4 linked regions of the Homo sapiens genome follow. The protein of the gene in region 4 purifies or fractionates together with the protein of the main gene of each other region. This does not show direct contact. Each region holds a gene or a part of one and is shown on either strand. Other genes may lie near its edges.

Evidence for each region. The genes of interacting proteins can lie anywhere in the genome.
Region 1: the proteins of MEX3C (region 4) and PABPC1 purify together in Homo sapiens (affinity purification with mass spectrometry; 3 studies listed by BioGRID, with this or other methods). This does not show direct contact.
Region 2: the proteins of MEX3C (region 4) and ZC3HAV1 purify together in Homo sapiens (affinity purification with mass spectrometry; 2 studies listed by BioGRID and IntAct, with this or other methods). This does not show direct contact.
Region 3: the proteins of MEX3C (region 4) and AP2B1 purify together in Homo sapiens (affinity purification with mass spectrometry; 4 studies listed by BioGRID and IntAct, with this or other methods). This does not show direct contact.

Annotation. Positions count from the first base shown.
Region 1 is NC_000008.11:100,705,089-100,708,588, forward strand, and holds part of PABPC1 (polyadenylate-binding protein 1), read right to left. Parts: intron 1,910-3,500; coding exon 1,799-1,909; intron 1,718-1,798; coding exon 1,563-1,717; intron 586-1,562; coding exon 501-585; intron 1-500. UniProt on the Homo sapiens protein: Binds the poly(A) tail of mRNA, including that of its own transcript, and regulates processes of mRNA metabolism such as pre-mRNA splicing and mRNA stability.
Region 2 is NC_000007.14:139,047,221-139,050,720, reverse strand, and holds part of ZC3HAV1 (zinc finger CCCH-type antiviral protein 1), read left to right. Parts: intron 1-2,867; coding exon 2,868-3,127; 3' UTR 3,128-3,500.
Region 3 is NC_000017.11:35,590,322-35,593,821, forward strand, and holds part of AP2B1 (AP-2 complex subunit beta), read left to right. Parts: intron 1-3,500. UniProt on the Homo sapiens protein: Component of the adaptor protein complex 2 (AP-2). Adaptor protein complexes function in protein transport via transport vesicles in different membrane traffic pathways.
Region 4 is NC_000018.10:51,187,682-51,191,181, forward strand, and holds part of MEX3C (RNA-binding E3 ubiquitin-protein ligase MEX3C), read right to left. Parts: intron 1-3,500. UniProt on the Homo sapiens protein: E3 ubiquitin ligase responsible for the post-transcriptional regulation of common HLA-A allotypes. Binds to the 3' UTR of HLA-A2 mRNA, and regulates its levels by promoting mRNA decay.

The sequences.
Region 1 (3,500 bases), on a different chromosome or scaffold from region 4:
ATAAAAAAAAGTTTTTAACTGCATTGAATTACCACATTAAACTGGGGTTTAAGAACCATACTTCTGTCTCACGTATATAATAACCCATAATCCACAATTTCATTATGTCTTCATGGGAAGACAGAATAAAATCTGCCACAAGGCAATTAACTCTTGATATTATCAGCTTGCCAATTAAGCAATGTTACCATTAGGTTGTTAAATCGGTGTTCAGGCAAAGTCACAAGTTTTCTTCTCATTTGCTTCAAATTCCTTCTCTCAAAAATGTAGTGAGGGCCCATGGTGAGTAATGCCCTACTACCCTATTTATTACTAACAATACATTTTCTTATTGGCTTTCCAGTGGTTTTAATTAGGCAGACCAACTGTACTATCATAATCATTCATGCCAATTCAGATCAATTCCACTGCCCTAGCTGTCAATTGATTGACCTAGTGCCTAAGTGATTCCTATATTTTCTAGTCTTTCTGAACTGACAAGGTGGGACAGAAGTACTCACCCAACATTTGCTTTTGCTCTTGAGGAGGGGCAGATGCCAACATGGAAGCAGTCAAAGGTTCCTGACCTTGTACATGAACAGCAGGCTAGACAGAAAATGAGAACTCTTAAGTTTAAAGCACAGAAAAAGATGGCAAATACAAATAGTCATCAATGGACATCTGCTGAAGTGGTAGACTTCCATCGAAACATGAGGTGGAGAAGTTGAGTGAGCGAATTAGAAAGAAGCCAAAGTAGTTATTATATACTATGTATCACAGATACATTTTTTTTCTTTTTGAGATGGAGTCTCACTTTGTCGCCCAGGCTGGAATGCAACGGCACAATCTTGGCTCGCTGCAACCTCCGCCTCCGGATTCAAGCAACTTTCCTGCCTCAGCCTCCCCAGTAGCTGGGATTACAGGCATGTGCCACCAAGCCTGGCTAATCTTTATATTTTTAGAGCTGGGGTTTCACCCTGTTGACCAGGCTGGTCTCAAACTCCTGACCTCAAGTGATCCACCTGCCTTGGCCTCCTGAAGTGCTGGGATTACATAGAGGTGTGAGCCACCACGCCTGGCCCATAGCTACTTGTAATAGTTGTTTCAGACCAGGCGTGGTGATTTAGGATGTGAATTTCTCGCTGCTTGTCCAATTCCAAAAGCGTAAGACATTTTACATACTATCATATTAGCAGAATGTTCCAGATAGGCTAAGCTCTCAAGAATCTATCATGCAGCTGTCTTCACATTTTTTCTTTTGAGACAGAGTCTTGCTGTCACCCAGCAGGGATTACAGCTTGCTGCAGCCTTAAACTCCTGGGCTCGAGCAATCCTCCTGCCTCAGCCTTCCTAGCAGCTAGGACTACAGGCTTATGCCACCACACCCAGCTAGTTTTCTTTGTGGAGACAGGGTCCTGTATGTTGCCCAGGCTGGTCCCAAACTCCTGGTCTCAAGCAATCTGCCTGCCTCAACCTCCCAAAGTGCTGGGGTTATAGGTGTGAGCCACTGTGCCCAGCTGTCTTCACACCTTTGATTTCACCCAAGAAATGTGATTTTTATTAAGAAATCATTAAATCCATACCTGTTGCATTGTAACTTGTGGCTGTGCATTAAGATGTTGCTGAGGATTGCGAACTCCTGCAGCATATTTATACTGTGGAACGGTGCGGACAGCAGGAGTAGCTGCAGCGGCTGCAGCTGCAGGACGTGGACCCATTGTCTGTGTTGATGTGTTAGCTAAAAAATAAGAACATTTTGTATTTTTATCTTGCTCTTTCAAATTGGTGATCAATTTTTAAAGGAAGGATTAAGACTCACCAACACGCTGTGTTGACATGACTCGTGGAACCTGTGAAGAAGCTGGTCTCATAGTACTAAATGGTGGTCTAGGAGCAGCTGGGCGGATAGCACCGGGCATATTTTGGAATGCTGCATTTTAAAGATGTGAATATACATTAACTGGGAAAACTTACTGAGTGAAAAGTGTTTATGCTGTCTTCTTCGATCTGAGGTTTGCATAAAAGACTAAAAAGTGACAAAACTTTTTAAAGCTGAGTCTTAACACTTGCCATTTTCCCAGACTCAGAGCATCAATAAGTAAAAACATTAATTCATACAAGGACGAGTACTTATATGTAGCGACCAGCCCCACAGGGTCGGTGGGCTTCTCCCTGTATGCAGCGACGAGAGAGTGCAGAAATAAAGACACGAGACACAGAGATTTAAAAAAAAAAGACAGCTGGGCACGGGGGACCACTACCACCAAGACGCGGAGACCAGTAGTGGCCCTGAATGTCTGGCTGCACTGTTATTTATTGGAAACAAAACACAAGGGGCAGGGTAAAGAGTGTGAGTCATCTCCAATGATAGGTAAGGTCACGTGGGTTACGTGTCCACTGGAGAGGGGGCCCTTCCCCGCCTGGCAGCCGAGGCAGAGAGGGAGAGGAGACAGAGAGAAAGACAGCTTACGCCATTGTTTCTGCATATTAGAGACTTTTAGTACTTTCACTAATTTACTACTGCTATCTAGAAGGCAGAGCCAGGTGTACAGGATGGAACATGAAGGCAGACTAGGAGCGTGACCACTGAAGCACAGCACCATAGGGAGACGGTTAGGCCTCTGGATAATTGCAGGCAAGCCTGACTGATGTCAGGCCCTCCACAAGAGGTGGAGGAGCAGTCTTCTCTAAACTCCCCAGGGGAAAAGCAGACTCCCTTTCCCGGTCTGCTAAATAGTGGGTGTTTTCCTTTGACACTTACGCTACTGCTAGACCTCGGTCCGCCTGGCAACGGGCGTCTTCCCAGACGCTGGCGTTACCACTAGACCAAGGAGCCCTTTGGTGGCCCTGTCTGGGCATAACAGAAGGCTCGCACTCTTGTCTTCTGGTCACTTCTCACTATGTCCCCTCAGCTCCTATCTCTGTATGGCCTGGTTTTTCCTAGGTTATGATTATAGAGTGAGGATTATTATGATATTGGAATAAAGAGTAATTGCTACAAACTAATGATTAATGATATTCATATATAATCATATCTAAGATCTATATCTGGTATAACTATTCTTATTTTATATTTTATTATATTGGAACAGCTCGTGTCCTCGGTCTCTTGCCTTGGCACCTGGGTGGTTTGCCGCCCACACTTATAAATATACCTGAAACATAATCATGATAAAATTCTAAGTGCTCCCAGCCTGGCCAACAGGGCAAAATCCCGTCTCTACAAAAAATTTAAAAAATTAGCTGGGCGTGGTGGCGTGTGCCTGTAGTCCCAGCTACTTGGGAGGCTGAGGCAGGAGGATCACCTGAACCCGGGAGGTGAAAGCTGCAGTAAGCCAAGACCATGCCACTGCACTCCAGACTAGAAGAAAGAGTGAGACTCTGTCTAAAAAAATAAACTCTAAGTGCTCTTGGAATATAACATACTGTTCCACAGGACAAGACATAAAATACCACGACTCTGATTCTCATACATGATTAAATGGAACGAGACCTTTAAAACTGTGGCCTGACAAAATATG
Region 2 (3,500 bases), on a different chromosome or scaffold from region 4:
TATCCTATGTTAGAATTCAAACAAATATTTATCCTAAAAAATGAAATGTTAGGCTAGGCACTGTGGCTCATTCCTGTAATCCCAGCACTTTGGGAGGCCGAGGTGAGTGAATCACCTGAGGTCAGGAGTTTGAGACCAGCCTGACCAACATGGTGAAACCCCCCCATCTCTAATAAAAATACAAAGTTAGCTGGGCGTGGTGGCACATGCCTGTAGTCCTAGCTACTCGAGAGGCTGAGGCATGAGAGTTGATTGATCACAAGAAGGGGAGGCTGCAGTGAGCTGAGATCCTGCCACTGCACTCCAGCCTCAGTGACAGAGGAAAACTCTGTCTCAAAAAAGAAAAAAATAAAGCACTCAGAAATGTAGGAATAGAAATGAACTTTCTTAACACAATAAAGGGAATTTTAAAAAAAGAAAATATAGATTCCAGATTATATAAGTGTGATATAAAAAAACTGATGCAACAAAAACAAAAATGGACAAATGAGATAGCATCAAACTAAAAAGCTTCTCCACAGTAAAGGAAACAATTAACAAAGTGAACAGACAAACCCACAGAGTGGGAGAAAATATTTGCAAGCCATACATCTGATATGGGATTAATATCCAAAATATGTAAGGAACTTAAACAATTCAACAGCAAGAGAACAAATAACTCAATTTTAAAATGTGCAAGCTGTTCCCATAAGTGGCCTGCGGTGATCTGTGAAAATGGTTCACTATTCACTTGACCCAGAAAACTCCATGAAATCATGCAAATAAAGAGGTTCAAATCTTCATGTTCACTCTAAGGACACCCATGAAACTGCCCAGGCCATCAAGAGTACGCCTATATGAAAAGCCAGCAAATGTCTGAAAGATGTCACTGTATGGAAACAATGTGTACCATTCCAACGTTACGAGGGTGGAGTTGGTAGGAGTGCCCAGACCAAACAGTGGGGCTGGGCACGCAGTTTGTGACCCCAAAAGAATTGAATTCTTGCTGTACACACTTAAAAATGCAGAGAGTAATGCTGAACGTAAGGGTTGAGCTGTAGATTCTCTGGTCGTCGAGGATATTCAGGCGCACAAAGCACCCAAGATGTGCCACCAGACTTCCAGAGCTCATGGTTGGATTAACTCATGCCTAAGCTCCCCCTGCCACATAGAGACAATCTTCCTGAAGAAGCACACCGTGTTCCTAAACCAGAAGAGGAGGTGCACAGAAGAAAAAGCTATCCTAGAAGATACTGAAGAAGCAAAAACTTACAGCACGGGAATAAATTCAGCGTAAAATACATGCAAATAAAAGTTTCAAAAATGGGCAAAAGACTTGAATAGACATTTCTCAAAAGAAGAAATACAAATGGCCAATGAGTTCATGAAAAAATGCTCAACATCGCTAATCATCAAGCAAACGCAAATTAAAACCACAATGAGCTGTTGCCTCGCACCGATTAGAATGGGAGGCTGAGGTGGGAAGATTGCTTGAGCCCAGGATATCAAGGCTGCAGTGAGCCAAGATTGCACCACTGCACCCCAGCCTGGGTGACAGAGACCCTGTCTCAAAAACAGCAGCAACAACAACAACAACGAAAAAAAAAAAAAAAAAAGGAGAGAGAGAGAGTTGGATGTACTGACATAGCAAGATTTCTAGGACTAAAGTGGAAAAAAAAGTTGTAGAACAGTTCATATATTATGATCCTATTTATGAACAAGTAAACCACCATAAACCACCATATGCACATATATGTATGTGAATGCATAGAAACAGGTGTGAAAGAATTCCCGCCAGCCATAAACTGTTTTGGGAAGGGGAGTGGGATTGGACGTCGTAGGTCAGTATAGGTAGACTTCCATATTTTACTTTAAATATAGTAGAACATCATTTGCACAGAATATCTAGTATCTGACCTATTCAGGATAAGCAATGTTTCTGGAATTCAAACATCTAACTATAAAATGATAAAAAGAACAAAAACAAAGTAGATGGGAAGTATATTAAACATTTGTTACCACAAGTAAAACAATTCATTTTACTTATTGATTCTTGCATGGAAATAGGAGTTGCAATATCTACTCATGGTCTTTAAAACGACAGAGTAGCTTTCTTAGAAAATATTATTAGTATTTTTTGATACAGAATCTCACTCTGTTGCCCAGGCTGGAGTGCAGTGGTATGATCCTAGCTTACTGCAGCCTCAACTTCCTGGGCTCAATCAATCCTGCCTCAGCTTCCTGAGTAGCTGAGATTACAAGTGCACGCCACCATGCCCGGCTAATTTTTAAATTTTTTGTAGAGATGGAGTCTCCCCATGTTGCCCAGGCTGGTCTCAAATTCCTGGGCTCATGTGATCCACCCGCCTCAACCTCCCATAATGCTGGGATTACAGACATGAGCCACTGCACCTGCCCAGAGTAGCACTTGACAATGATAAAAATAAAAATTTTAACTTGGCAGGAAATTGTTGGTCTGCTGTGTATGGAAGCAGCAATCGTTATCTGAGGTTGTTTTAGAGTTGAGGACGAAGCATCAACTGACTCATCAGTTCCAAGTTTGCTCATTCAGCTCACACTGGGTGAATTGCATGAATTGGGCCACTGTGACATTGTCATTTGGTCATTGCACCCAATGGCTCACACTATCAGCATGAGCTCTGCACTGTAGCAAATATTCCTCAGTCATTTCTATAGGGTTATATACTGTATTTAAGTTCGCCTGCATCATTAACATGTTTTTAAGTGCAAAGGAAAGTTTATAAATATCAGTAAGGTATTATTGACATATGCTTAGTCCACACCCATCTGACTGTATATAACAAATCTTATAAACTGTATACCTTCTTTTATAATATTTCTTAACTTTTCTTTCTGATTCTTTCTAGGAATTTACTTTGCAAAAGATGCCATCTATTCCCACAAAAATTGCCCGTATGATGCCAAAAACGTCGTTATGTTTGTAGCCCAAGTTCTGGTTGGAAAGTTTACTGAAGGAAATATAACGTACACGAGCCCTCCTCCACAGTTCGACAGCTGTGTGGATACCAGATCGAATCCCTCCGTTTTTGTCATCTTTCAGAAAGATCAGGTTTACCCACAATATGTGATTGAATATACTGAAGACAAAGCCTGCGTGATTAGTTAGAACCGATGAATACAGCGTCAGAAGGATGCCATAACCATTCTGTTCCTTTACAGAACTAAATTGCCGCAGACAGGAGTTAAAGTTTTATATTTTCCTGCTCAGTTATCTAATGTCTTAGATCAGTGGTCCCCAAATTTTGCTACATATTAGAATCATCTGGGAGGTTTTAAACAAATTCTGATGCCCAGGTTGCACCCCATGCCAATGAAATCATTTCTGGGCGTCAGCGCCAGGCAGTTGTATTTTTTTTTTTTTTTTTTTTTTTGAGACTGAATCTCACTCCATCGTCCAGGCTGGAGTGCAGTGGCGCGATCTCGGCTCACTGCAACCTCTGCCTCCCGGGTTCAAGCAATTCTCCTGCCTCAGCCTCCCG
Region 3 (3,500 bases), on a different chromosome or scaffold from region 4:
GAGAACTCATTATATGAGAGATACACTGAATCATATATATATGTGATTTTTTTTTGAGGTGAAATTCACGTACCATAAAATTAACCAGGTTAAGGCATACAGTTCAGTGGCATTTAGTACACTGACAGTGTTGTGCAACAATCATGTCTTCTGATTTGTTTTTATTTACACTATTTTCATTTTTCTTGGAGTTTCTTTTGGCTTAAGGCAAGAACCAGCTTGGCACCATGTTTCTCTGCCAATATGGTTAGGGAATATTTTGTTACTATTGTTTACAATATGGTTACTAGAGTGATATCCCTTCTCTTTAGAGCAGCAGGGACTCTTAATTTAGAATCTATCTTATAGGCTTCTAAAGATACTTGACCCTCCTCTCTTCCCTGAAATTTTGTGGGTGGGTGCATTATTTTCTAGTTAAGACAAGAACACTTAATGCTCACAGTGAACAGGATAGTAATATATTCCTTGACATTGAAATTGTTAGGGGAGATAATGAAATATGTGAGCTACTGATAAAGGTATGACTTAAGACTTAGGTTAATTTATTGTTTAATAGAATGTAGTGAAAATGCCTGTTAAGAATTTACTCATGCCTGTAATCCCAGCACTTTGGGAGGCCGAGGTGGATGGATAACTTGATGTCAGGAGTTCCAGACCAGCCTGGCTAACAAGGAAAAACCCTGTCTCTACTAAAATACAAAAATTAGCTGGGCGTGGTAGTGGGTGCCTGTAGTCCCAGCTACTCTGAAGGCTAAGGCAGGAGAATCACTTGAACCTGGGAGGCAAAGGTTGGAGTGAGCCCAAATTGAACCACTGCACTGGAGCCTGGGCCACAGTGAGATTTTGTCTCAAAAAAAAAAAAAAAAAAAAAAGAATTTAATGGGCTGGGCACGGTGATCCCAACATGTAGTCCCAGCTACTCGGGAGGCTGAGGCAGGAGGATTGCTTGAGCCCAGAAGGCAGATGTTGCAGTGAGTCCCAGCTGGGACTACAGGCATGTGCTACCATGCCCGGCTAATTTTTGTATTTTTATTAGAGACGGAGTTTCGCCACGTTCCCCAGACTGGTCTCGATCTCCTGAGCTCAAGCCATCCGCACGCCTCGTCCTCCCAAAGTGTTGGGATTACAGGCGTGAGCCACCGTGCCTGGCCAAAAAAAATTTAATATGTGTATGTATAAGAGGCTTTTCAGAGAAATTGGGTGACAAATTCTAAGGAGGTTTTGTTTTAAAATCTTAAACAAGTTTTAAAGGACATAGCATAGCATAGTAAATATCCTAGACAGATTGTAATGGATTTGAGCTATAGTCCTTCTTTGAGGCTCAAGTAATCGTTTCTGTTTACTGGTTTTTCTGTTTGTATATATACATTCATAAATAACTTCAGATTTATTCCAGGTCTTTTATGTGAAGAATTCCTTTCTTCATTTGCCCACTTCACATTTAGTTTACATTATGAATGGACTAAATGATTATAACATTCTTTGAATTTTTGCTAGAAACACATTGTAAAAACATTGCATAAGGCAAGCTTCAGTATAATTTTTAATTATAACAAGTATTAAAGGAGAAATTTCTATATTCTGTAATGATATTTGTGAGTCCTAGCTCACTTCTTTTAACAAGATCATTCTGTGAATTTCTGGTACAATCTAAAGAGCTATTAGGATCAAGACTATAAATAGTAATTAGCTGGTTGGAAAGATAGCAAATGAGTCTAATTTCCATTAAACTGTACAAGTAGCACGTTTTAGAGATCAGATTTGAACCAGAAGTTTTTCATTATTTTATGTTTATCTGGCTCTTTTTTCTTTTCTTTAATTACATTGATTTGTTTGGTGCTTAGGTCTTTTCTCCTAGATCCATATTTACTATTGTTTGCCAAATACATTATGTCATATTGACCTGATAATAATGAGCAGGTGCCAGCATGTCTTGTCCTGAAGTTGGTGATAAGTATTATTAGTGATGGTGATAAGGAAAAAGATACTCATTTTGAGTACAGAAGGAATATTATTAAAAAATATATGTATATTTATATATTTTTTTCCCCTTGAGACAAGGTCTCTGTCGCTGAGGCTGGAGTGCAGTGGTGAGATCATAGCTCCCTGTAGCCTTGATCTCCTAAGCTCAAGCGATCCACACACCTCAGCCTCCCAAGTAGCTGAGACTACAGGTACATGCCACCATGCCTGAGCCACCGCGCCTGGCCCAAATTCCTATTTATTTATTTATTTATTTGAGATGGACTTTTGCTCTGTTGCCCAGGCTGGAGTGCAGTGGCGTGATCTCGGCTTACTGCAGCTTCCGCCTCCCAGGTCCAAGCGATTCTCCTGCCTCAGCCTCCCAAGTAGCTGGGATTAAAGGCACGTGCCACCATGCCCAGCTAAATTTTGTATTTTTAGCAGAGACAGGATTTCACCATGTTGGCGAGGCTGGTCTTGAACTCCTGACCTCAAGTGATCCACCCGGCAGCCTCACAAAGTGCTGGGATTACAGGCGTGAGCTACTGTGCCTGGCCCCAAAATTTTAATATATTTAAAGAAGTCTGGTACATTGGACAAAGTCTTATAGTTTCTCAAATCAGAAAAAGTAGTCTTATTATTTAGTAAAAATGTGACCAGACTGTGCCGTTTTTGTTAGTAGAGCCATTTGTCATCTGGATTACTTCTTCTGGAAATTGGGATGGAAGAGTTAAGGTTGAGGTTGAGATCCACGTTCTTTTGTTTCAACACCAGTTTGATTCTCGTGTCTGAACGGATGTCTCAGTCTTTTGCCTTGTTTTTAACTATAAACTGGCATTATTTGGGAATACTCTTGGGCTAAATCTGGATTGTTGGAAGTAAGAAAGCCACATTTTTTTTTAAATCCAAAAATATAGTTAGATACAATGAATAAGATCTAGTATTTGATAGCACAAAAGGGTGACTGCGGTCAACAATAATTTACTGTACATTTAAAAATAACTAAAAGAATGTAATTGAATTGTTTATAATACAAAGAAAGGATAAATGCTTGAGGTGATGGATATCCCATTTACACTAATGTAATTATTATGCATTGTCTGCCTGTTATCAAAATATCTCATGTACCTATACGCACCTACTAAATACCCACAAAACTAAAAATTAAAAAAATTCCATGCATAAGTCATGGTTGCCTCTCTAGATGTTTGTTGTGAAAGAATATTGTCCTACTAATTTTGAATTTTTTTTTTCTGAAAGAGATTCTTTTTATTGAAAGTTTCATGTCATAGATCGGCAAAATTGTTTTTTCTTTTGACCTTACACTGCTTCAGAATATATGTTTTGGAGTGATTCCAGCTTGAGGCAAGGAAGTTACCAGATTTTCCTGAATGGAAAGTAATTGCAGATATATTTATAAAAAGGTCCAGCTTTAGCTCTTGAAAGCTTTGAGGAGTTACTGTGGATAAAATCACAAAGCCATAATAGGTTCATACTTTTACCCAGTTGCATTTGGCCTTTAGATTTTTGCCCCATTA
Region 4 (3,500 bases):
TGGGCAATAAGAGCGAAACTCCGTCTCAAAAAAAACAAAAACAAAAACAAACAAAAACCCTAAATCATCTCACGTTTCATGATATATAAGAATGAATGAAGGGGTTGTATTAATAATTTTATACAAAATAAGGTCCCTTTCCCCTTGGAATAGTCTAGACAGAATATTCAAAAGCTCCTTTCATTTTATAGAAACACATAAAATACTGTATTAAGGTGTTACAGTAAATATGGAATTGCCATTAGTTCTATTAATCAATTCTAGTATTCTATCTTCAAAGACTAATGAGTATCAACTAAATCCCAGTAAGAATGTTTCATGTACACAACATTAATTCAACATTTTAAGTAATAATTTAAGAATGCAATGTATTCCTAAATGCATAATATAAAACTAATAGCTTTCCTTTCTAGGGTTCAAGTGGCCTCCTTGTAGCTATTTTAAGGCAAGAATACTGTTTGTCTCACTTTAGGGATTACTATGACAATACTTCAAACACCTTCATTTATGTGATTTTAGTTTCATTATCAGTATTCATATAAACATTTAATGCCTTCAATCAAGTAGCATCTACTGTACTTCAAACAAAAGTGCCAAACAACTTGAGGTTGACTGGGTCCTTACATAAAAAGCTGTTTGGCCAGTTGTGGTGACTTATGCCTGTAATCCCAGCACTTTGGGAGGCCGAGGTGGGTGGACTGCTTGAGCTCAGCTTCAGCTCAGAAGTTCAAGACCAGCCTGGGCAACATAGTAAAACCCCGTCTCTACCAAAAATACAAAAAACTAGCCAGGCGTGGTGGTGTGCACTTACCGTCCCAGCTACTGGGGATCACTTGAGCCTGGGAGGCGGAGGTTGCAATGAGCTGAGATTGCTCTACTGCACTCCAGCCTGGGCGACAGAGTGAGACCCTGTCTCAAAAAAAAAAAAAATTAAAAAAAATGCTGGGAATAAAGGCAAGAGGGAAGAAAACCCCAATTAAAACAATATGGAAAGTACAATGATATAAACAATAAAATGGCAAGTTTATAAGAAAAAAATTTAGTTCAATAAAATAAAAAGGAAGTATTCCACTTTGTTTTAGGTACTTTAACCAATATTAATAATGCAAAGATGACTAAGATTCAGTTCTACCTTCACTGACTTGTATTAACTTCAAGCACTGAAAGTATTTAGTGATACATGTTCATGTACACATAGTGACCTATTTTCTTTTCTTATACTGTTGGTTGGTGACAGTAGTCAGATCTTCTACAATATCCTTGCTGATTTTTGTCTACTTGTTCTACCACTTACTGAGATAGGCACGTTGAAGTCTCAAACAATAATGGCTTGAGACCTTGGATAAGTTGTTTGTAACTCCATAGACTTGTTTATCTGTTCGGTGGAATTAAGAATGGATTAAATGAGATGACACATGTAGTTTTTGCACAGTGCCTGACACAAGTTTGTTGTTATTAAAAGACAAGTGAACTGATTTTTATAGGGAGTTAAAAACATTTAAAGAAACTCCTAAAGATAAAACATATCATAAACTTTGCAAAATTGAGAAGATTTTGCAAAGTCAATCTAACTGGTAATATGAAATCTGGTTTACTTTTACCTCATTTTAGGGACTCTCTTTGGACAAAAATCAGAATATAAGAAATGTGACAGACCACCTAGTTAAATCTCATTTTAGACATGAGGAAAACCGAAGCCTAAAATTGTCCAGTTATAAACTAGTGACCCCTAAACCAATGTTCTCTCAAGCTGCCTTATTTTCCTAAATCCCAATAAGAATATTTCTAGTGTATTTTTAGGAGTGGAGAAGAATTCCCTGCATGTACAAGGTATTTTAAAAAACAGAAGTTAAATTAAATCTAAAACCCCTCTTTTTTCACTTATTTTAGACAAGACAATAAAAAATATTTAATGAAAAGTTTTATTATTTGGCCTTTCAGTAAACCTGAAAGAAAAAACCAGAAGAGGGTGTAAATTAGAGATGAAAGGCAGAAGTTTTCCTAACTGGGGAGCTTGAAATTATGTTCATGCTCTTTGGAGAATGTTAACAGAAACCTTAGAATTATCTGTCTGGGTACCATACAATGGAATTAGATTCATTTGTAAATGATTCTCTTCCAGACTTGCTTAGTTCTTTGCCAGGAAATACATTTCCAAAGCTCTGATTTTAAATAAATTTTAAGACATATTATAAATTTAAAAAATATAACTTACATAATTTATTGGTATAGCCTACGAAAAACTTACTAAAATGACATTTTTTGGCTTTAACTAGCATTTGTTCAGAGTATAAAAGAAATTTAGCAGTAAAAATTTACCTTATCTGATATATAATTTATCATCTCTGTACTTTCAATTGTACTGTCAATTTCTACTAATGCTATCTTCTCAGACTTGATCCTCACAACAAATGAGGGAGAGGGGAGAGAGAAACCTGGAAGAACAAGTAGATGAAGTAGGTTTTTTCCAGAAGAGAAAACAGGCTCAGAGAGGTTAAGTGATTTATCCAAGGTCACAGGCAGCAAGTGCAAAACACAAGGTTTCTAACTCCAAGTCCAATGTCCTTTCCTGCATTATACTAAATGGCACTGGTAGAAAGGCAGAAGAGAAGGCAAAGGGAAAGGGAGGCACAGAGAAGGGAAATAATAATAAAAAGGTCAGCCCCAAATGCAAATATATACTTTTACATTGGTAACCATTTTGGGAGATCTTTTCTAGTTGTTTGAAGCCATTCCCTCCCCACTTCCCCTTCAATCATGTTCAAGACCAAATTACTTATGCTTACCTTCAACTACATCTGCAGTTTTCATTAAAGGATTTTCTTTTATTATTTTAAGGCTTAGTCTTATTATTCCATGATAGACTTTACTTGTGACCAAACCAGGCTTCTCTGCATGCAATGAGGAATTGTAGTCCGTACTTACCGGACAAGGGCAACAAACACTTGAAGTGTCCTTACATCTCAAACACTGGCATGGAAGAGGTCCTATAGTTAGTGTAACTTAAAATTCTCAAAGTCAGTTATAGAATAAAGACTTGAACTACTCAAACAGTATTAGACTATGCATACATTCAATTTAGTATATCTGGGTTTGGTAATCCTAACATTAGAAAATTATTTTCAAGGCTTAAATATCAGATTTAATCTTTGTAAGTCTCTATATAGTAACTAATGGTAGCATGGGGAAAATGTTAAAAGTAAATCCACAAATTATGGCATATAAGCTACTTGGGAAGCATTAAGAATGCAGTTTAATAAAAAAGGTATCACTTAAGGATCACCTGAATATCAATGGAGATTTAAACATAACTATCCATGATCTACTTGGAGCTTCTTAAAAAGCTTTTTTTATTTTTAAGTGCAAATACACTCCTTTAGTATCTTATGAACATTATCTACTTTCTCATCTTGAGTTTGGTTACAAATTCTACATGGCAGGAATGACACTGTTTAGAATTCTATAACAATCCTATAAATTATAAAATAGTACTGTAGTAG